7 linked regions of the Homo sapiens genome follow. The protein of the gene in region 3 interacts with the protein of the main gene of each other region in a pairwise test. Each region holds a gene or a part of one and is shown on either strand. Other genes may lie near its edges.

Evidence for each region.
Region 1: the proteins of TMEM14C (region 3) and ARL13B interact in binary tests that used the Homo sapiens proteins (3 or more experiments, as listed by UniProt).
Region 2: the proteins of TMEM14C (region 3) and MTERF3 interact in binary tests that used the Homo sapiens proteins (3 or more experiments, as listed by UniProt).
Region 4: the proteins of TMEM14C (region 3) and ELOVL7 interact in binary tests that used the Homo sapiens proteins (3 or more experiments, as listed by UniProt).
Region 5: the proteins of TMEM14C (region 3) and VSIR interact in binary tests that used the Homo sapiens proteins (3 or more experiments, as listed by UniProt).
Region 6: the proteins of TMEM14C (region 3) and TMEM79 interact in binary tests that used the Homo sapiens proteins (3 or more experiments, as listed by UniProt).
Region 7: the proteins of TMEM14C (region 3) and SSMEM1 interact in binary tests that used the Homo sapiens proteins (3 or more experiments, as listed by UniProt).

What each region holds. Positions count from the first base shown.
Region 1 is NC_000003.12:93,983,038-93,986,668, forward strand, and holds part of ARL13B (ADP-ribosylation factor-like protein 13B), read left to right. Parts: intron 1-3,631. UniProt on the Homo sapiens protein: Cilium-specific protein required to control the microtubule-based, ciliary axoneme structure. May act by maintaining the association between IFT subcomplexes A and B. Binds GTP but is not able to hydrolyze fit; the GTPase activity remains unclear.
Region 2 is NC_000008.11:96,241,668-96,244,652, forward strand, and holds part of MTERF3 (transcription termination factor 3, mitochondrial isoform 1 precursor), read right to left. Parts: intron 2,414-2,985; coding exon 2,252-2,413; intron 1-2,251.
Region 3 is NC_000006.12:10,728,766-10,731,675, reverse strand, and holds the end of TMEM14C (transmembrane protein 14C), read right to left. Parts: intron 1,062-2,910; coding exon 1,010-1,061; 3' UTR 549-1,009; downstream 1-548. UniProt on the Homo sapiens protein: Required for normal heme biosynthesis.
Region 4 is NC_000005.10:60,834,191-60,837,821, forward strand, and holds part of ELOVL7 (very long chain fatty acid elongase 7), read right to left. Parts: intron 1-3,631. UniProt on the Homo sapiens protein: Catalyzes the first and rate-limiting reaction of the four reactions that constitute the long-chain fatty acids elongation cycle.
Region 5 is NC_000010.11:71,767,021-71,770,520, forward strand, and holds part of VSIR (V-type immunoglobulin domain-containing suppressor of T-cell activation precursor), read right to left. Parts: intron 1-3,500.
Region 6 is NC_000001.11:156,290,134-156,292,943, reverse strand, and holds the end of TMEM79 (transmembrane protein 79), read right to left. Parts: intron 1,560-2,810; coding exon 1,346-1,559; 3' UTR 501-1,345; downstream 1-500.
Region 7 is NC_000007.14:130,213,975-130,217,348, reverse strand, and holds the end of SSMEM1 (serine-rich single-pass membrane protein 1), read right to left. Parts: intron 1,376-3,374; coding exon 879-1,375; 3' UTR 505-878; downstream 1-504.

The sequences.
Region 1 (3,631 bases), on a different chromosome or scaffold from region 3:
TTTTATGAAGATGAAATGTGAGGAGTGAATTTGTAAAAGAGATGATGATGGTTATTAATATACTATATTTGAGATTACTTTGCAGATTTGTTTAATACATTCTGTACCCCAGTACCCATTGTATTTGTTCACCTCTCCTCACTTAGATCCTTTCCTAGTGAGCATATTATTCCAGACATTGGAATCAGGGATTAGATTTGTGTGATAAGGACAAGGCAGGAGTCAGAGATCAAGTGTTAAGGCACCAGTCTAGGTCAGCAGTCAAGATCTTATAAAAGTTTAACGCTTCATCCCCCTTAGTGGAGTACTGAACCCCACTTATTTGGGGTTTGGTATGGCCCCATTCATGAATTTTGGTTCAGTTTGGTACGGCTCCATTCATGAATCAATGAATGTGGAAATAAACTCTTGAAATTTTATTGTTCCTAAGTTTATCTTTTAAAAATATGTTACCAAATTGCTCCTCAGAAAGGATTAAAAAAGAGAAAACACAGTTTCTACTCCTACCAACAGTACGTTGGAGTGCCTTTTTCACTGAGAAAATCAAGAGTCATCGGTTTTTCATCTCCTTCACATTATAGGGGAACCTGCTTTCTGCTTTGAGTTTCTGGGGTTTTTTTTGTTTTGTTTTGTTTTTATTACTAGGAAGATTAACTTTTTTTCCTTGCGCATTTTTGTTTCTCTCAGCAGTTGTCCATTGATTACTGTTGTGTTTTTTCTATTGGGGCAGGTGTGTTTTCTTAATGAATTTTTAAAAAGAAATTTTAAGTGTTTGTCGTAGCTACTGTTTCTCTGTAGTACAATTGACACTTGAACAACGCAGGGTTTAGGAGCACTGAACCCTGCCTTGCCAGCACAGACAGAAATCCACATATAACTTTTGACTTCCAAAAAACTTAATTACTAATAGCCTCCTGTTGACTAGAAGCCTTACTGATAACATGAATAGTCAGTTACCACATATTTTTTATGTTATATGTATAATTTATTGTATTCTTAAAGTTAGAGGAAAGGAAATGTTAAGAAAGTCATAAGGGGCGGAGCACGGTGGCTCACGCCTGTAGTCCCAGCACTTTGGGAGGCTGAGGTGGGCAGATCACTTGAGGTCAAAAGTTCAAGACCAGCCTGGCCAACATGGCGAAACCCTGTCTCTACTAAAAATACAGAAATTAGCTGGGTGTGGTGGTGGGCACCTGCAATACCAGCTACTTGGGAGGCTGAGGCAGGAGAATCACTTGAACCTGGGAGACAGAGGTTGCAGTGAGCTGAGATCATGCCACTGCACTCCAGCCTGGGCGACAGAGCAAGACTCTTGTCTAAAAAAAAAAAAATTAAAAAGAAGAAAAAAATACATTGACTATTTATTAAGTGGAAGTGGATCATCATAAAAGTCTCCATCCTCATCTTCTTCCCATTGAGTAGGCTGAGGAGAAAGAGGAAGAGGGGTTGGTCTTACTGTCTCAGGAAGGTTTCAGAGGCAGAAGAGGTGGAAATGGAGGCTGGGGAGGCAGAGGAGGCAGGAGAGGAAGGCACACGTGTAACTTTCATTAAAAACAAATTTGTGTGTAAGTAGAACTGTGCAGTTCAAACGTGTGTTGTTCAAGGATCAGTTGTATAATATTGCAAGTATTTTCTTTCCATTTGTTATATTTTCAACTTTTTGTGCTTTTTAAATATAAACATTTAAAATGTTTGAATTCAGGCTGGGTGTGGTGGCTCACACCTGTAATCCTAGCACTTGGGAAGATCGCTTGAGCCTAGGAGTTTGAGATCAGCCTGGGCAATATAGTGAGACCCCATCCGTACAAAAATGTTTTAAAAAATTAGCCAGAAGTAGTGGCATGTGCCTGTAGTCCGAGCTACTTGGGGGGCTGAGGCAGGAGGATCGCTTGAGCCCAAGAGGTGGAGGCTGCAGTAAGCCCAGGTTGCCCCACTGCAGCCTAGCCTGGGTGACAAAGTGAAACCCTGTCTCAATCAATCAATCAATCAATCAATCAATAAGACTAAATAAAAATTTTAAATTCAAATATATTACTGTTTCAGTGTAATGTTTAGAAAGTTCATCAGCATTACAAGATTACATTCACATATACTTTTTTCTTGTAGTTTTATATTTTCATTTTTAACATTAAAAACTGTTAATCTATTGCAATCTATTTAGCTTATAGGGAGCAGCCTTCATCCTGAGTACAGGACACAAGGTCTGTGAAGCTATGATGCTCAGTAAATCTCTGGGCCTTATAGCAGATTCTAACCCTTACACATTCTCATCTACAGATTTTGAGCTCCTGTTATTTATAACATAGCATCTAGGTGATGAAATAGTGCATGTAAAATATAATGATCGAATATGCAAGAGTTGAAATATGATTTTTAAGATTTTTAATGAGAATCAGGAAAGAGGATTTTAGAAGGGGTGTAATTTTACCTGGGTCTTGAAGAAATTCATGCAACAAATTTTGCATACAAATTTTGGCAACAAAATTCTTTGTTTATATGAAAATATACATGTTATATAACTTCTTATATATTATGCATACATAACTAACAAAAATGTTTTTACTGTTATTTAACCAAAAAGAAAGATATAATAAGTACCATATGCCTGCCAGGTTTTATAAATATTAATCTTTAGTCATCATATTTCAATTTTATTTTAATAAGTAGGTAACAAATCCTTGAAACTTCCTGCCCCCTATTCATCTCCCACCATTCTTCCACAGAGTTAACCTTTAATTGGAACTGATTTCTTGTCCATCTGTGTTTTTTCAGCATCACAAATACAACCTATCAAAGCTTTACTTCAAATTTATTAGTAAATTGTTTGCTGTGGCCAAGTCTAAAATAAGATACAGTACACAATGTTTCTAGTGGTCTGTTTTGTCCTCTTTGCTATGAACTTTTTCACTGAGGGAATACTTAGCTCCCTAATACCATCATTCTTGGCCTAAATAAATATAACTGTAAATCTAGACCATTTATAGAAATTGCTGAGTTCTTAATTTTCCAATTAAGCTGTATGTACAGATTAGCAAGGATTATCTATTGTGCTGTATGCTGAACTGGAATATTTTACATCTCTTTTTATCCCCCTAGTTCTTCTTGATTATGCATAGTAAGAATTTTAGAATTTTAATATAGAAAAGGACCTAGAGACATTCTTATTTTACCCCCTTATATTTTAGAGATGAAAAAATGGACACTAAGAATTTGACTTGATCAGGGCTTAAAAGCAGGCTATAAACCCAAGCTTGGCCTTCTCACTATTTATTCATACTCAGTAAATTTAGATAATGATTTTGCTGTAATATGGGGTTCTAGATCTGAATTGAAATGTCAGAAAATAGTGTACTGCAATAAAATCACACTGTTTTTTCGATACATTTTTTTCTTTCTATCAATTTGTCGTATAGTGATTTTTTAAAATTCTCACATATGTATCATAAAACCTTGTTCTAAAGTCTTTTTTTGTATATGTATTTGTTACTTTTAGAATTTATGTTTATGTTAAAATTTAGAATTTGCTTCATGTAGTTTTAAATACTGTAGATAATAGAGTTCCGATGTGTCAAACTTTGATTTTAGTGTTTTTAGCGAAATGTTTTCTTTGACTTGCATAATATTTTTGAAG
Region 2 (2,985 bases), on a different chromosome or scaffold from region 3:
TGGATGTGGTGGTGTGGGGGGAGAGTTGTTGGCCACCAGGGGCTACTTTGCCATTGGCACAAAAATTTCATCCTATTAATGACATATTAAATTCTTCGGAGTTAAAAAAAGTGCCCCTAGCCTGAGAATTATTGGTTCCCTCTAATCCTAAGGTGGACTTCAACTTTGCCTTCACAGAAAGTCACAGAGGAAGGGGAGAGTGAAGGTTTCGGGGGATCCTGAATATAACCTCTTTCCTTAGCCTAGTGATTTCTTCACATTCATTACCCTAAAACTGCTTTTGTTATCCTTTACCTTCCAAGATCTCTTCTTTGAAATGACTAAATTGATCATAGTTATTAAGTTATACTTCTTTCCCCATTTTTAATTAATCGTAAGTCAGATCTGCCAACCAGGAATATTATCTACATGAGAAAATTAGTTCCATGCCACTGAGATTTAAACACCAGCCAAAAATGTAAAGTCTATATCAGCCCATTCACAGCCTTACTGTCCGTTAATGTATTTTTTCATTAATAAGCTTTTTATTTTTCTGTTTTTATTCCCCAATAATTCCACCTAGACTCTAGGAATCTGAGAATCCCAATTTGGAAGCCACAATTCTACAACAGAGCTTCTCTGAGGCAAGGGTTTGGGGTGCCTAAAATCTGTGTTTTTAAGTGATTTTGATGCATCTGGTCAGCTTATAATTTCTTCTATTTGGAAAGCTCCTCTCCATCTTTTAAACACCACTCCCTCTTCTACAGACAATTCAAATGTACTTCTAGCAGATCCTAGTAAAGGGCTTGGGTTTTTAAACTGGACTGTTGGAGTTCTAATCGTGGTTCTGCCCCAACCTTGTTACTTGGGTAACCTTGGACAGGTTACTTAAATCTCTTTAAGCTTAAGTTCTTTATGTGTAAAATAGGGGTAATAATAGCATCTACCTCATATGGTTGTTGTGAGAATTAACTGTGTTAATACAAATAAAGCAATAAAGATAGAGCTGGCACACAGTAAGTACTCAATTGCTGTTATTACTTCTATAATTCTCCTACCGCTTCTAAATCACTGTAGGAGCTCTGGTTAGGACTCTACCATCATATAAAGCAATTCTATTTTTAAACCTGTCTTCCACACTCGATTATAAGTTCCACAAGAACAGAGATCATGTCTGCTTGACTTTTGTATCCTCAGTGCCCAATGTGTAGCACTGATGGATGCTCAGTGATATACTGGAAAAATGAATTACCCACCAACCCAGGGAAAAACAAATTGTCATTTCTTTTTCGTTGAAGATTATTTCACAATTACTCCATGAGCCAAATTCACAAAACTGTAGGCTTCTAACACTTCTATAATGGGTATATTTACGTTTGGTAAAATAGGAAAATCCTATATTAGAGGCCCGTTCCTAGTGAAGTATAATAGGCAAATAAATATAGCTGTATGTGAAGGAACTGGACCTAATGCAGTCTAGTTCTGAGAGTTGTATTAAGGTCATATTTCTTTTACCCATCTTTTTTCAAAAACAGGAACATGTGTTCTAGCAAATGGAGTAGAGGGATCACTTAAATAAAAATTCAGTTTGTCATTTATCCAATAAATACTGAGTGGCTATTTGCATAGGAAATAGGAAAAAAGGATTACTTTGATAAAATCCAATCATTCATTTGTTCAACAAATATTAATTGTGTGCCTACTTAGTGCCAGGTGTAGTTCTAGGCACTGAGGATTTGGCAGTGTATAAATCAGACAAAGTTTCTGCTTTTAAAGAGTCAATATTCAAGATTAATATTCTTGTGAACAGCAGATAATATCACTCACTAGGTAAAGAATATGGAAGCTTGATTAGCTTAGAAAATATAATTACGGCTTTGGCATGATGGCAAACTGGATCACTTTTATATTGGGATGGGGATCATTACAATATGGCTTATTGATTCATGAATTTAAATAAACTGTGACTAAAAAGTACACGTAGCAGTGAAAGGACCTTTAAGGGAAGTGATCTATTCCAAAGTAAAGTAGAGAAAAACATGAGAGAGAAGAGAGACTACATTAGATTTGTTGGCCTGATTCCAACAATCAGAACTAGGACTAGGTAGAAACTCCAGGGAAAGAGACTAATCACTGATTTCTCCTCAGGAGATGGACATTTGCGCCCTGCAAATTGTAAACTCTTCCCAGCGTACAGAACTATGCAGCTGGAGAGCAGCTCCAAATGAAGCGCAATGGCAGCGCTTACAGAGAGAGCTGTGAGTGGCATTACCTGTGGGAACTTGACAATGATGTGGTGGGGAATGCTCATCACATTGTGCACAAAATCAAACGTCTCGGTAAGTTTCATTTTATTTGCAGTTAACATCTTTGGGATTCTGGTGATCATATGTTGAATTTCGTTATGTTTAAAACCAAGTTCAAGACGATAAACCTAAAAGAAAGTAAATTTGCTATGAATCGTTATGTAGAAATAGTTATTTTGGTACCATGGCAAGGCTGCACTGATTTTTTTTTTTTTTGAGATGGAGCTCGCTATGTTGCCCAGGATGGAGTGCAGTGGCATGATCTCCTGCCTCAGTCTCCCAAGTAACTGGAACTACAGAGGAATGCCACCACACCTGGCTAATTCTTGTATTTTTAGTACAGCCAGGGTTTCACCATGTTGGCCAGGCTGATCTTGAACTCCTGACCTCAAGTGATCCACCCACCTTGGCCTCCCGAAGTGCTTACAGGTGTGAGCCACCGCGCCTGGCCATGATTTTTTTTTTTGAGACGGAGTCTCGCTTTGTCATCCAGGCTGGAGTGCGGTGGCACGATCTCAGCTTACTGCAACCTCCGTTTCTTGGATTCAAGTGATTCTCCTGCCTCAGCCTTCTAAGTAGCTGGGATTACAGGTGCCCACCACCATGCCTGGCTAATTTTTGTATTTTTAGTAGAGATGAGGTTTCACCATGTTGGCCAGGCTGGTCTCAAACTCCTGACCTCAAGTGATCTGCCCACCTC
Region 3 (2,910 bases):
GGGCAACAAGAGCGAAACTCCGTTTCAAAAAAAAAAAAAAAAGAAGAAAACCTCAGTGGCCAGGTACAGTAGGTCATGCTTATTACTCCAGTACATTTTGGGAGGCCAAAGCGAGAGGATCACTTGAGACCAGGAGTTTGAGACCAGCCTGGGCAACAGAGCAAGACTGCATCTCCAAAAAAAAAAAAAGTACATTAGCTGGGTGTGGTGGTATGCACCAGTAGTACCAGCTATTCAGGAGGCTGAGGTGGGATGACTGAACCCAAGAGTTTGAGGCTACAGTGACATATGATTGCACCACTGCCCTCCAGCCTAGGCAACAGAGAAAGACCTTGTCTCTTGAAAAACAAAAAAAATCCTCAGAGGTCATTTTTGAAACAAGCTTCAATGCAATGTACAATCAAATAAGTTTCCTTGGTCCTTAAGTTATTCAAAATAGGTAATTTCTAAATATTAACAAAATACTTTCATGTTTCTATATCTTGCTGCTAGCAATATCTCATTCTATGAACTAGACAGCTCTGGCAATGAAGACCCCATAGGAAATATTATTTATAGTAAACTTTATTTTCATTGATATTTCACTTAACATAATTTCAAAGTCAGTCTGTGGTCTAAGATGAGCAAAAGAACAGATATTGTAAATCTCCTAAAAGACTTTTTTTCACACTGTTCCTCAGAGCAGGGAATGGGGTTTCAGAGCCCTGAAAGCTGACACCTAACATTTTACCCTTGAGATTTACCTACAGATACAGAAAGAAAAGACAACATCAATATACAAGAATCAAGCTCTATGAGGGTCTTATTAAGCTCTTGTGTTACATACTCGCCACCTCTGTAGGTTTGTAATCATGACTGATTTTCCACCTCTCTGCCAAGTTTGGTGTCTTTTTTTTTAGGTAAAATGTCAGATGCAAAAATGCTGCACTTATTTCTCTTAATATATTGAAAATAGTGGAAGATGCAGATTTTTAATTCTTCATCAGTCTAAGCTGGAACATGACTTCTGCTAATGGGGTCTGTTGAACATACTAACTCCAACTTTGGCGACCATCAGCAAACTGTTTAAAAGAAACAAGATAGAAAATGTCAGGTAAAGGACAGAACAGGCAACTATGTTTTTAAGGAACTAAACTGCTGGTTCCTCACAACTGCGTGGGGGAGGAGGTACTAAGGCAAGAGTGGTCAGGGGTAAATTTCCATCCCTGGAGGAACCAGAGAAAAAGCAAGCCAAGGGAGTCTTAAAATAGCACACATGAGCTGGATCCTAACCCAACTGCCAATAATTTGAAGAGATGAAGAAATGGAGGCAAGAGAGAGCAAGGCCTCCCCACCATCACAGATCTGATTAATGGTAGACTCTCCAGCGTCTCAGTTTACTGCTCTAGACCTTGCTCCACACTGACTTCCTTGCTTCAGGTATAAAACATTATACTGGTAGCATCACAACTATGATCAGAGTATGTAATCTTTCTCCAAAACAGATTTTTAAAAATTCCCCTACCTTCAGGATGTCTTTATGATACTTAACTAAATTTTTTGTTTTTGAGAAGGTTTTTTATTTTTATTTTTTCAGATGGAGTCTCACTCACCTCTGTTGCCCAGGCTGGAGTTCAGCAGCACAATTTCGGCTCACTGCAACCTCCGTCTCCCAGGTTCAAGAGATTTTCCTGACTCAGTGTCCCAAGTAGCTGTGATTACAGGTGTGCACCACCATGCCCGGCTAATTTTTGTATTTTTCATAGAGATGGGGTTTCACCATGTTGGGCAGACTGGTCTTGAACTCCTGACCTCAAGTGATCCGCCCGCTCTGGCCTCCCAAAGTGCTGGGATTGTAGGCATGAGCCACCACACCTGGCCTACAACTAAAGTTTTGTTTGTTTGTTTGTTTGTTTTTTGAGATGGAGTCTTGCTCTGTCCCCCAGGCTGGAGTGCAGTGGCATGATCTCAGCTCACTGTAATCTCCGCTTCCCAGGTTGAAGCAATTCTCCCTGCCCCAGCCTTCCGAGTAGCTGGGATTACAAGTGCCCACTACCATAACCAGCTAATTTTTGTATTTTTCATAGAGACGGGGTTTCGCAATGTTGGCCAGGATGGTCTTGAACCCCTGACATCAGGTGATCCGCCTGCCTCTGCCTCCCAAATTGCTGGGATTACAGGTGTGAACCACTGTGCCCAGCCACAACTAAATTTTTTAAAAACCACAATTTGGTTTAGGTTTTATAATCAAAATTAGAAAACAGGGCCAGCCGCAGTGGGTCACGCCTGTAATCCCAGCACTTTGGGAGGCCGAAGTGGGCGGATCACAAGATCAGGAGTTCCAGACCAGCCTGGCCAATGTGGTGAAACACCATCTCTACCAAAACAACAAAAATAGCTGGGCATGGTGGTGCACGCCTGTAATCCCAGCTACTCCGGAGGCTGAGGCATGAGAATCGCTTGAACCCGGGAGGCAGATGGTGATTGCAGTGAGCGGAGATCACGCCATTGCACTCCATCCTGGGTGACAGAGTGATACTCCGTCTCAATAACAACAACAAAAAATAGAAAACAGGATTCAATCAAAATTCTCTTTTAGCAAAATTTTCTGTAAAAGACATCTACACATCTAAGAAATATGGGGCCCCCAAATCTTCCATGCAAGTCACACAAAAGGCTGCAGTCATGGCTTTGCACTAAAACTTCTGCCACCATATAGGGAGGAGTTTGGATGGACTGGAAAGCAAATATGAGAACAAACCCATTTCCACGGTGAATGGATATACTCATGCCATTTTGACATTAAACTAGCTATTGTTTTTGAAACATTTCCTATTAGTGTATATATCAAATGTCAGTTGATACATAGCATCAGATATCCTGAAACAAGTAAGGTTTTGAATGCATAAGGTATCCTGGGGAATAAACTGA
Region 4 (3,631 bases), on a different chromosome or scaffold from region 3:
GAGTGCAGTGGCATGATCTCGGCTAACTGCAAGCTCTGCCTCCCAGGTTCACACCATTCTCCTGCCTCAGCCTCCCAAGTAGCTGGGATTACAGGTGCCCGCCACCACACCTGGCTAATTTTGTTTTCGTATTTTTAGTAGAGACGGGGTTTCACCGTGTTAGCCAGGATGGTCTCCATCTCCTGACCTTGTGATCCGCCCGCCTCGGCCTCCCAAAGTGCTGGGATTACAGGCGTGAGCCACTGCGCCCGACCGGTTCACATTATTAAAATAAACTTAAATGTTATATAGATGTTATTAATGAAAGCCCAATTTAAAATAAGAAGCATGAGCCAGGCAGAGTAGCTTACACCTGTAATCCCAGCTACTTGGGAGGCTGAGATGGGAGGAATGTTTGATGCCAGAAATTTGAGATCAGCTTGGGCAACATGGTGAGATCCTGTCTCTCAAAAAATGATATAAAATAAGAAGTATGAGTTGATTATATACCATTAGTATGGAATGCTAAGTGAAGGTTCTGACTACTTACTACACTATAGCGTAAACTATTACAGTCAGACTAACAGGAGCAGGAATTCTGACTAGTTTTGGTTAGTTGATTTTTAAAAATTTATTTATAGCAAAGAATGAAAAATTTATTTAGATACTATAAACACTTACTTTTTAAAAAAATATATAAATAGGCATTAATTCTCCAATTTTCCAAAGTAGTCCCAAGGGCTGGGCACAGTGGCTCACACCTGTAATTCCAGCACTTTGGGAGGCCAAGGCGGGCAGATCACTTGAGCTCAGGAGTTCAAGACGAGCTTGGGCAACACAGAAAAACCCTGTCTCTACCAAAATACAAAAATTAGCCGGGCGTGGTGGCACACACCCGTAGTCCCAGTTACACGGGAGACTGAAGTGGGAGGATCAATTGAGCCCGGGAGGTGGAGGTTGCAGCGAGCTGAGAGCAAGCCACTGCACTCCAGCCTGGGTGACACAGTGAGATCCCATCTTGAAAAAAAAAAAAAAAAAAGACAGAGTAGTCCCAAGACTGTACTTGAGGAAGAGCTCCTCACCAATATTTTTCTGCTATAAACCATACCTAGAACTTAATCTACAATTTCCAGTTTTAACTTTCTAAGTGAATTAAAAACAAAGCAAAACAAAATAAAACAACTACACACACTTTTAAGGCAAGCTCAGGATATTTTTCAAGTTTTTACAATTTCTGTTTTTATTTTTGAATTTTTTTTTTAGACAGGGTCTCACTCTGTCATCGAGGCTGAAGTACAGTGGTGCAATCACAGCTCACTACAGCCTCGACCTCCTGGACTTAAGGGATCTTCCCACTTCAGCCTCTGGAGTAGCTAGGACTACAGACGCATGCCACCACACCCAGTTATTTTTTAAATTTTTTGTAGAGATGGATGTCTCACTATGTTGCCCAGGCTCGTCTTCAACTCCTGTCCTCAAGTGATCCTCCCACTTAGGCTTCTCAAAGTGGTGGGATTACAGGCGTGAGCCACTGCACCCAGCCATCTTTCTGATTTTTTTAGTTTTCCTGACCCCTTAGTGACTCACTTTTATGGAACCTTTCCAAAGAATTCAACATTCCTTTCACAATAACAATATTCTTTTTTTGCACTTACGTTTCATAAGTTCACGCATATCTAAATTATCTATCACAATAACAAATATAACTGGCACTAACATGTTTGCAATAAATACAATAAATTGTTGTTAAGCCAATAACCCAGCAGTTGGAGAAGGAAGAAGACTACTAGAAGCCACTGTTCATCATGCCTGGGCACCACCCCATGTGCTTATAGGGAAATGAAGAGCATAGGCTCATTGGTCAACTGTTAGATGTCAACGGTATTGTATTTGAATCAGGATGAACCATATGCAAACTGCCAACATCCAACTGTTTATTCACCTACAGAAAGGGCAATTGCATATGTTCAACCATATATATATATACACATTTTATTTAAAAACACTGACTATATTTTATGTTAAATATCACATCCACTACCATTTTTTTCCTTTAGAAGAATGAATAGTGGTTCTCACAGCTTGATTTAAAAAATTCCATTCCACATTGGCTCAGGAACTCACCCTAAGCTACTGAATAATTCGTCATTGGACTCTGGATTCCTAGGAATGCCATTTCTATCTTCTTTCTTTCTTCAAGTTAAAGTCACACCTGTTAGTCACACACGAAGAAGAGGATGAAGGATGAAGCTATCAGCTGTGCTTTCTAGCTAACTGAATGATAAGCAGCAAAGGGATTAAAATGTGGGTCAACATTGTTCGTTGGCTGGTTTATTTCTGAGACATAAATCTTTCTGTCCTACAGGATGCAACACAGCACTGTCTGCCTGAAGAAGGTACAAAAAGACAGGTAAGACTCTGAGGGGCAGAGAAGCCCCTGAACAGACTTAAAATAAGTCACCCTTAAGTAATAAGTGCCCTTTACTTTTGTTCTGCCCTTGTTAGAGCATTTAATTAAAATAAACACACAAACAAATCACAAGCGTGCTATTAGGACAAAACCCAAAAATTTGGGACAGAAAGAAGGAGAAGAGTTGGGGGATGGGGCTGTATTTAGATTAAGGGCTGCTAGTGAAACTCTCTTTGTCTAGATCTCACGTTTCTACCATTGACACTAAAAAATCTAAATTGGGTTTATTTTTATGGTTGCCCTTACGCCCTCACAAAACTATTGTAAGATATCAGAGTCCTAGGGCCTCCTATATTCTCAAAAATATCAACCCAGAGAGTTAGTATTCAGAGTGGGGAGAGCCTAAACCTTGTAATTACACCTAGGTTTAAATCCTGGCTGCATACTTCTACCAGTGTAGCCTGAGCACCCTTTCTGCTTTTTTCACCTTTCTGTACCTGTGCATATGATGAGCCAGACTTTGCTGGCTTCAAAGGATTCATTAGAAAATACAAGTAAAGAGACTCACTGCAGGCTGGGTGCAGTGTCTCACGCCTGTAATCCCAGCACTTTGGGAGGCTGAGGCGGGCAGATCACCTGAGGTCGGGAGTCGAGACCAGCCTGGCCACCACGGTGAAACCCCGTCTCTACTAAAAATACAAAAATTAGCCGGGCAGGCGTGGTAGGGCGGGGGGGTGGGGGGGGAGTGGGGGGTGGGGGTGGCGCTTGTCAGGAGGCTGAACCAGGAGAATTGCTTGAACCTGGGAGGCAGAGGTTGCAGTGAGCCAAGATCACAACATTGCACTTCAAACTGGGTGACACAGTGAGACTCCACCTCAAAAAAAAGAGAGATTCATTGCAACTATTACTTATGCCTAAAAGATGACAAACCTTTCACCCCATAATTTTCAATAAGATGTTTTAAATGTAAATGCAGCCTTGAGTATCCTGTAAGGACAGAGGTACAGATGATGCCCATGAAGTTGATTTTCTGTTTCAAAATTCACATGCAAGCTAAGCATAATCAAGATATCTAATGTAGGCTGGGCGCAGTGGCTCATGCCTGTAATCCCAGCACTTTAGGAGGCCAAGGCAGGTGCATCACCTGAGGTCGGGAGTTTGAGACCAGCCTGACCTAACATGGACAAACCCCGTCTCTACTAAAAATACAAAATTAGCCAGGCATGATGGTGCATGCCTGTA
Region 5 (3,500 bases), on a different chromosome or scaffold from region 3:
CCCAGGCAGGGAGGCTGTGGGGATGCAGAGTTCCATCAGGGGCATCTGCTCAGAACTTGGGCCTGGACCTGTGCCTGAGATTTCTAGCTGTGGCACCCTCAGATGTTTCTGTCCCAGTACAAGGGAAAGGAGCTCTTGTTGGCATCTTCTCAGAATGCCAGTTTTTGTGACCTTCACCTCTCTCCACCCAGCAGGCCCCGGGTGACCCCTGTGAGTGTGCACGGGATGGGTGTGTGTGGGTGTGGACAGGCCTGTGTATTTTTCATGACAGGGCGTGAGCTTAGCCCACAGTCGCCAAGGCAACGCCCTAGCCTTTGGAGGTGGGACCCAAGCTTGGTTAGTCGGGCCTAGGAAGCCCCACCCAAACAGCTGAACTCTGACCAGCTGCTAGAGGTTGTCAAGTAAACAGTTATTAATTGCCTGCTGTGGCTGGCCCTGCACTAGATGCAAAAGGTCCCGTCCTTGGTCTCACAGGACATCCCAAAGAGAATGGGACCTGGTTCCAGCTCCCCGCCAGGCCCCATCCCCCAGGATGGTCCACAGGCTGGGGCTGGGGCTGTAGGAAAAGACTATGTTCTGTCTTTATCAAGATGCAGAGGGAAACAGAGGCATGGATCAATCAGGACTGGGGCTGCCAAGGCTAAGAAAGGAAGCGTCACAAGGCATAGGCTCAGGGCCTGAAGCCAGCAAGTCTGCCCTGGGGCTTTCTGGCCAGTGAGGACAAAGGGCATCTCAGATGTGTTTATTGATACCTGCCCCCGCAGGAAGTGTCCATTCACATCAGACCAAGGGGGCTGGGAAGGGGAAGCCAGGCTCTATTGAAGGAAGCGGCACTTCCAGCACCTTGGGAAAGCCTCCGTGCATCCGGGGCTGGAGCTGGAGGCTAGCATGCCTCCCCAGGGAGGGCCTAGGCAGCTGGCCAGAGGTCCCGGCCCGTGGATGCTTCTGTGGATGAACCCCTCCCAGACTCCCCAGGCCCTTTTGGAGGAGGACTGTGTGCAGCTCAGGCTCCCGGCTCCAGCCAGCCACCCTCACGCTTCTATGCTGTGAAGACGTCCTCAGGGTCCAGCTCAAGTCTTTTTGCCCCCTACTACTCTGTGCCAGGCATCATTCTAAGTGCTTGTTTGTTTGGTTGGCTTTGTTGCTGTTGTTGTTGTTGTTGTTGTTTGAGATGGAGTCTCGCTCTGTTGCCCAGGCTGGAGTTCAGTGGTGCAATCTCAGCTCACTGCAACCTCCGCCTCCCAGGTTGAAGCAACTCTCCTGCCTCAGCCTCCCGAGTAGCTGGGACTACAGGCACCCGCCACCACGCCTGGCTAATTTTTGTATTTTTAGTAGAGACGGGGTTTCACCACGTTGGCCAGGCTGGTCTTGAACTCCTGACCTCATGTGATCCACCCGCCTCGTCCTCCCCAAGTGCTGGGATTACAGGAGTGAGCCACTGTGCCTGGCCGTTTGGTTGGTTTTCTTTAGTGAGCTAGGGTCTTGCTCTTCACTCAGGCTGGAATGCAGTGACAATGAGATCATAGCCCACTGTAACCTCGAACTCATGGGCTCAAGTTATCCTCCCACCCCTGCCTCCCAACTAGGACTACAGACACATGCCACTATGCCCAGCTAATTTTTAAATTTTTCATAGTGATGGGGTCTCGTTATGTTGTCCAGGCTGGTCCCCTGGCTTGAAACTCCTGGCTTCAAGAGATCCTCCCACCTCAGCCTCCCAAAGTGCTGGGATTACAGGCATGAGCCACTGTGCTCGGCCTCATTCTAAACACTTTTACATAGATTAGTTTATGTAATCCTTCCACCCTATGAGGTAGGTACTAGTATCATCTCCATTTTACAGATGAGAAAACGGAAGCACAGAGAGATTAGTATCTTGCCCACAGCCTCACAACTAATAAGTGATGGTGTCAGGATCTGAACCCAGGTAGTCAGCCTCTGGAGGTCTGGTGCCATCTGACTACTCTCTAGAGAATAGAGGTAGCTGGGGACTGACTGGAGGCCCCACCTCCTTCTTGAAGACGGACAAATGTCATGACCAATGAAAGCCCAGCTTGCCTGGCCACGTCTACCACATAGTTTTACTTTTGGTTTTACATTAAATAACATTGAATCATATATAGAAGAGGTTATTCCCTTTACAATTATTTCAGTCCTGATTACATCAAAGAGAAAGTCTCAGTTTGATGCTAATATGTCTCTAAAACATTTGCTAATCTCCTTTTCTTTTTAAATTTTATTTTATTTTAATTTTTTGCAAGGGAAAGCAGCAGTTTTCAGACTCCGAGCCTTCCCAGGCTAAAGTTTCCAACTAGAATTCAATACCCTTATATGGTTTTCCTGTTACGTTCTTTTATGGTTTTGTTCTATTTATGACAAGTGATACTGGCTTTCCACTAATGACAGCGATAAAAAGTTTCCTTTTAAAGATCTACATACTCAAATAAAAGAATGAGTAGATTTAAAGAAAAAAATAAGTAAATATTATGAAAGGCAGACACTGCAGAGATCACAAAGGTGATAAGCAAATGACTGAAGCTAGGGAAACACCATCATGGAATTAACCTTCAGAGGAGGGTGGTCAGCCTCACTGAGACCACGTCACCCAACCTGTCCATTGCACAGACAAAGGGGAAGTGTGTGTTTGTGTTCCCATGATGAGTGAACAGCAGAGGCAGGGTTTGACCCCAGGTCCCCATGGGAAATAAGATCCTACGCAGAAAGGCTAAAGGAATGGGCTTGCTTGGCTTGGTAAGTAGCAGAGCAACCTCATTATTGGATTACTGATGAGAAAGATGGTGGCCACTGTCTTTGTCTTTGGTGATGGCCAGCCAAAGTGAATGGACCGAATGTAAAAAGATCAGATGTAAGAAAGATCCACCAAGATAAGCAAACCCAGGGCCAGGCTTGCCTTCAAGTTGCAATGTCCCCATCTCCTGACAACTTTAAGAAGAGAACCTGTAGGCACCTCCATGGGCATTTCAGACTGTGAGGGCCTACAGGGGCTCACAGGTAGCTGGACGCAGCCCATGCACCCTTCATACTCCAGGCTTTGGAGAATCTAGTCCCAGTGAAGCTCACCAATGCCTTCCCAGGCCCTGGGCACTCCATTAGGCCCTGTAGAGAGCAAGCAGCTTAGATAGAAAGCCAATGGCATGTGGCCTGCAGAAGCCAAGAAATACCATAATATTACACAGTATTCACGAGGAGCCGGGTGCTGTGTTAAGTGTTCGTTCATTGGCTCTTCACAGTTGCCCTCCAAGGGAGGTGGTATCATCTTCCCACTTTAGAGGGAGGGGAACTTGCTCAGGGAGACTGAATAACTTGTCCAATATCACAGAGCAGTAAATGGCCATCTTGGGATTTAAGCCTAGGTCTGAGTGACTCACAAAGCCCAAGAGTTAAGCAAGGGGCTGTACGGAAGCCCTGGCATGCATGTCCCTGGCTTTGCCATATACAGGCATGCTGGGACTGCAGCTAAGGGCATCTGTGGGGCCACT
Region 6 (2,810 bases), on a different chromosome or scaffold from region 3:
CCATCTTGCTTTTCTGTGGAACCTCAGAGGCCAGCCTCGACTTCCTGGAGACCCCCAGGTGGGGCTTCCTTCATACTTTGTTGGGGGACTTTGGAGGCGGGCAGGGGACAGGGCTATTGATAAGGTCCCCTTGGTGTTGCCTTCTTGCATCTCCACACATTTCCCTTGGATGGGACTTGCAGGCCTAAATGAGAGGCATTCTGACTGGTTGGCTGCCCTGGAAGGCAAGAAAATAGATTTATTTTTTTTCACAGGGCTCCAGTCTCTTGATGTGTGAGTGTTGTTGGGCTGGTCTTGGGCTGGTTCCAGGGAATGGAAGGGCTAAGAGATGGGCTTGGAAGGCAAGTTTCTGTTTGAGGCTCCATTTCCTTGCTGTGGAACCAAGGAACCTGCCAGCCCTGCTCCACCAGGTAGAGCTGGGAGGTTTCTATCGTCATCTGAATTAAACAGGGAAGGGACACTCGAGACTGGGGGACAAACAGGAAAAAAGAGCCAGCAAAGACTGGTAGTAATTTATTGTTACACACACACACACACACACACACACACACACACACACACACACACTAGGTTAACATCAACCACCGCACCATCCAGGCACTCCCCAGCCACCACGTGTGGGCACAAAGACACACACACCCCTCTTGGTAGGCAGATTTCCCTGTCTGCTCCCCTCTTCCTGTGGGAGAGGCATGCCTTCTGGGCAGTTTAAAGGTGGGAAGTTACAGGGGCCTAAAAAGGTAAAAGAGCAGCAGCTCTGCACTGGCCAGCTGTAAACAGTAAATAGGCCAGTCATGGAGGGTCCTGAATCCAGATCCTCAGGAAGGTTTTCACCAAACACCACAGTCCCATTTGATGTGATGCCCAGCCTCTATCCTTAAGGCATTTCCAGCGTCCCTGAGGCGCTCTGCTTAGACAACTGGCACAGAAGTGGTCAGGGCCTTGGCTGTGGCTCTGCCTCCTGCCTCACGGGAAGCCGGGGAGTGGAGCAGAGACCAGCATTAGGGAGCCTTGTGGCAGTGGTGAGAGGCTGCTCAGGAAGGAGCTGTGCCTCTCCCCTGGTCCTGGCCCCATGCCCTCAGCATCCTTAAGAAACACGGCTGTCCACCTTTTTCCCTGCAAGAAAACTAAGTCCATCCCTTATGACTGTCTCGGGCCCCAAAGGTGAAGGGCAGCTCCGGCAAGGGGAGAACTCCGATTGATTGGAGTCCCTGTTGGGGCAGTAGCAGGGTTCCACCCACCGCGGTCCTAGGCCTGGGGGCGAAGTCCAGGCCTGGCCACAAGGTTCAAAGATGTGTCAGACCCAAGCCGCTACCCCCTACTCCGAGGGCGAGGGCGGAGAGGCTCAGCCCCAGGGGCGGGGCCTGTAGTCGGAGGCCGAGCGGGCGTGGTCCGGGTAGTCCAGGCGGCTCTCGGTGGCAGTGAGCATGCGCTCCGGCTCCACCACGAACATGTAGTAGAGGTTCCACATCAGCATCGACAGCAGTGGCAGAAACGTCAGGCCGTAGCCGAAGCCTCGGAAGGAGCGGCCCACGGCAAAGGTCAGCCAGTAGATCAGCCTATGGGGGCAAGAAAAGGGTCAGGCTACTCTCGAGGGAAGCGCGTCAGCTGATTGGCAATAGGCTGACGGTGGGGGGAGTAGATAGGGGAGGCAGATGCAGTTGGTGGGTATGGCTGGTACTTCCAAATACAGCCAAAGTTTATGCACTTAACATGTATTAGGCACAGCGCTAATTACTATAAGTGATTGATTTGACTTCCCCACATCTTTATGAAGTTGAGTATGTTATTCCTTTCCCTCTTTTATTTACTTTTCGATTTATTTTTATTTTTTTAGAGACATGGTCTTGCTATGTTGCCAGTCTGGGCTCAAACTTCTGGCCTTGAGTGATTCTCTCACCTCAGACTCCTGAGTAGCTGGGATTACAGATGCGGGCCACCACACCTGGCTGTACAAACTTTAAAATGTTTGAGCAAATTCAATGAGTATAGTAAAATATCTTCCTCCCTTTACCGATTCCCACCCTATTCTCCCCCACCCCCACCCCAGGCATCAATATTATGGTTTCTTGTGCACTGAGTGATTTTTTAAATTATTATTATTTTTTTATTTTTGAGACAGAGTCTCTCTCTGTCACCCAGGCTGGAGTGCAGTGGTGCGATCTCAGCTCACTGCAACCTCCGCCTCCCGGGTTCAAGCAATTCTCCTGCCTCAGCCTCCTGAGTAGCTGAGACTACGGGCGCCCGCCACCATGCCTGGCTATTTTTTTGTATTTTTAGTAGAGATGGGGTTTCACCCGAGATGGTCTCAATCTCCTGACCTGATGATCCGCCTGCCTTGGCCTCCCAAAGTGCTGGGATTACAGGCGTGAGCCACCGCGCCTGGCCTATTTTTTTTTTTTTTTAAATTATAGATGGGGTCTCTGTCAGCCAGGCTGGAGTGCAGTGGCAGCCCCCAACTCCTGAGCTCAGGCAGTCCTCCCACCACAGCCTACCAAAGTGCCTTGGCCTCCCAAAGTGCTGAGATTACAGGTGTGAGCCACCATGCCCAGCAGATTTTTTTCTTTTATTTTTTTCTTAAAGACCAGTGTGCTTTTCTTGGAGAAAGAAGAAAAGAAGAAAGAAGGAAGAAGAAGAAGAAAGAAAGGAGGAAGAAGGAAGAAGAAGAGCCAGTGTGATAATACATTGAGTGATTTTTTAAAAAGTGCATATATGAGCAAAAAGTTATTTTTCCCTTTTCTGAAGTATGGCAGCATACTATATAGACTGTCTCTGCATGTTTATTTTTCCCCCATTTAATATATCCTGGA
Region 7 (3,374 bases), on a different chromosome or scaffold from region 3:
TTGGCCTGCCTTTAGCATGAATCCTGTTAGGTCACTTTATCAGGAATACTCCTATGTTTGATGTCTCTCTTTGGTAATTTCCCATCCTGTGATGTCCTCCTCCTGCTCCTGGCTATAAATCCCCACTTGTCCTTGTTGTATTCAGAGTGGAGCTCAATTTCTACTCTCTATTGCAATAGAGTCTTGAATGAAGTCCTCCTGGCCATTTTAACAAGTGTCAGAATAATTTTTCCTTTAACATTTGCCATGCACTTTGTGGATGACAACCGTGGGTAGCCCACTGCCAACTGCCTTCTGGGTCATGCTGCCTCTCCTCCCTACTCCAGGAATCAGATCTTATTCCAGCCTCTTGAGCTCCTCTTCCACACCAGCCCCTAGCTGACATGTGTGGCAATACAGTTCTTGTAGGGTCAAACCTAGAGAGGATGGGGCAATTCTATTCCAACCAACTTCACCTAGTTCATTCAGTCAGTCAGATAAGCAAAACATCTGAATACATTTAAGTGGTTTCTCAACATAAATAATACATTTTCAAAGAGCTTTCTTATTCATATTACAGACATAAACAAAATACATACACTCAAGGCACAAAATATATACACTCAAGGCACAAAATATCTGTCTTGTGCTATTTCAAATAAAAAAATCATAGCAGATATAGATCTTTGGTGTTCCAATGGTGCCATAAACACGTGATGGCCTTTTTTTTTTTGAACGAAGAATTGTGTGAGATTTTACCTCTTGGGTTCCAAGTATGTTTTTGTTTGTTGGTAGAGAGACTTTGTTGTAAAAGTCTCCTCACCTATAGCTCTGGTGATTTTTCATGTTTTATTCATCTCTTTCATTTGGCTTCAAGTGAAGGAAGAACGTGATAAAATTCAAAATTTACTAAATTTCTTGTTAATGTCAGATATGGAACTTTCCTCTTGACTGTCTCTTTTCATTGGCGGTGTTACTGAAGGCTTCTGTCGGGAATGGTGCGCCAACCATTCGTTGGTTCTCAAGGCTTTGCAGTGGAGGCAGTGCCTTTCGCTCATTTGGTAACTTCCCAGATTCCTTTGCCTCTGAGCCATTTTTCTCCTCTTAATACTGTCTGGTGATGGGTGGTGTTCACTTTCACTCTCCTTCCACGAGGAGGCTTCTGAGTTAGACTCTTCACTGCCATACTCCGTAGTATCACTGTCATGTTGGTTCTGGTTCACCTCATTGAACTGAGACTGGCGCCTGGCTCGTCTTTGTTCAGGATAGGCATTGACCAAAGCCACTTCTGAGTTGGTTACAGGGGTAAGTTGGTTCTGCTTTGGTTTCTTCATTGTTTGTGAGGGATCCCAGGCACTGTCTTTGCTTTGCCGCTTACAGGAAGTCTCTTTGCTTGCTAACAACCAATGAAACATATCAAGTTAGTAATATTGTTGGTTACTATGAATTCCTATTACTTAAGAAGCCTGTGCACGTGTGAGCTCACTCTTAGTGGCCAGTTGTCAAGCCATTGCTTTTCTCCAGTCACCTGCAAGTGTTGGCAGCTGACTGCATTTTCTAGTACCATATCCCAACTCCTGCAGACCAGAGAGCTTAGATAGATGCTTGACATATCACCATATCACTTTTGAAGTTTTGTGGATGCTAAACATAAGGTCAAAGGAAAAGATCTCTAAACTTTTCCAGGGAAGAACTCTTTTTTCCCTTTGAAAATTGAAGTCTTACAGATTCAAGCAGGTATATGAATGTGATTTGGGGAGCAGGAACTAAGAAGGATCTTTCCTTTACGTAGTGGTGTGAGGAAGTTGGCTTGTACCTGCTCAGAAGAGCTGATAAACTTTCAGGAATTTTGAGAGATGGTTAAACATAGCCATTATTAAAAATTAAATTATACCAACTTACAATAAATTAAGTTACTAAAAATAGAGGTAATACTCAAAACCCATCACTTCCTAATTATCTTACTACATTTGTTTATGCTATGTGCTCTTCTGGTTTTTTATGTCCGTTGTATTTGGATGCTGGAAACTCTATGCTGTTTTTTTGTTTTGTTTTTTTTTGTTTTTGAGATGGAGTCTCGCTCTGTTGCCCAGGCTAGAGTGCAGTGGCACGATCTCGGCTCACTGCAATGTCTGTCTCCCAGGTTCAAGTGATCCTCCTGCCTCAGCCCCCCAGCAGCTGGGATTATAGGCACGTGCCACCATGCACAGCTAATTTTTTTGTATTTTTAGTAGAGACAGGGTTTTGCCATGTTGGCCAGGCTGGTCTCGAACTCCTGACCTCAGGAGATCCACCCTCCTTGGCCACCCAAAGTGCTGAGATTACAGGCGTGAGCCACCACGCCCGGCGGAAATTCTATGTTAAGGGTGCACTACTGCACATCTCCTCCCAACTCCATGTTCAATGACATGAGGTGGATAGCTTAAAATCAGCTTTGGTGGAAGTATTTATACCACGAAAATCAGCAGACACTAAACATCAGGGCTTGATGTATGGCTTTGTTGATTGTCTAGGCTTAAGAAAATGATGGAGAACATGTTACTAATGCAGATTACATATTACATTTCAGTATCATCCCTGTAGCCACTACATTGTGACTAACCCTGCAAAATGAGGAAATATTCTTCCAGTATTTTAGAACTATTATCCATTCCAGCAAAGAAGTCACTCACATCACTGACAACCAAGTTAAGTTCCAACATACATCTATCTTCTGCTTCATTTTCATCTCACTCCTTAACTTAGAGGAAAATAACATTCACGCTGGAACTATACTTGTTCATCAATTGCAGCCATGGTTGGCTAAGGTGCAAGGGTCTGGCAAAAATGAAGGAGAGCGTTTTGTGAGAATCAGTTGTCTATATGAAATTGGCCATAAGGAGTATTGTATATTTTATTATTTTAAATGGTGTGATATATATTTATTTATTTTTATTTATTTATTTATTAAATTTTTAGAGTCAGGGACTCACTGTGCCGCCCAGGCTGGAGTGTAGTGGCATGATTATGCCTCACTGGCAGCCTCGAACTCCTGGGCTCAAGTGATTCTGTTGCCTCAGCCTCCTGAGTAGCTGAGACCGCAGGTGCGAACAACCATGCCAGCTAATTTTCTTTTTTAAAAAGACAGGGTTTTGCTATGTTCTCCAGGCTGATCTTGAACTCCTGGCCTCAAGCAGTTCTCCTGCTTCAGCCTCTGGAGGTGCTGAGATGACGTGCAACCTTTATATCAGTAAAATTTTTAGTAAGCATATGTACACACAGGAGTTTTGGAGAACCAGTTGTTAAACATTTACCAGTGCACCACTGCTTATAGGTTATTGAAAAAGATGTCATAGACAGTTCATAATCCTGTAATAGCACTAACCATGAGGATGTGGGAAGGGCAAGCAATGTGA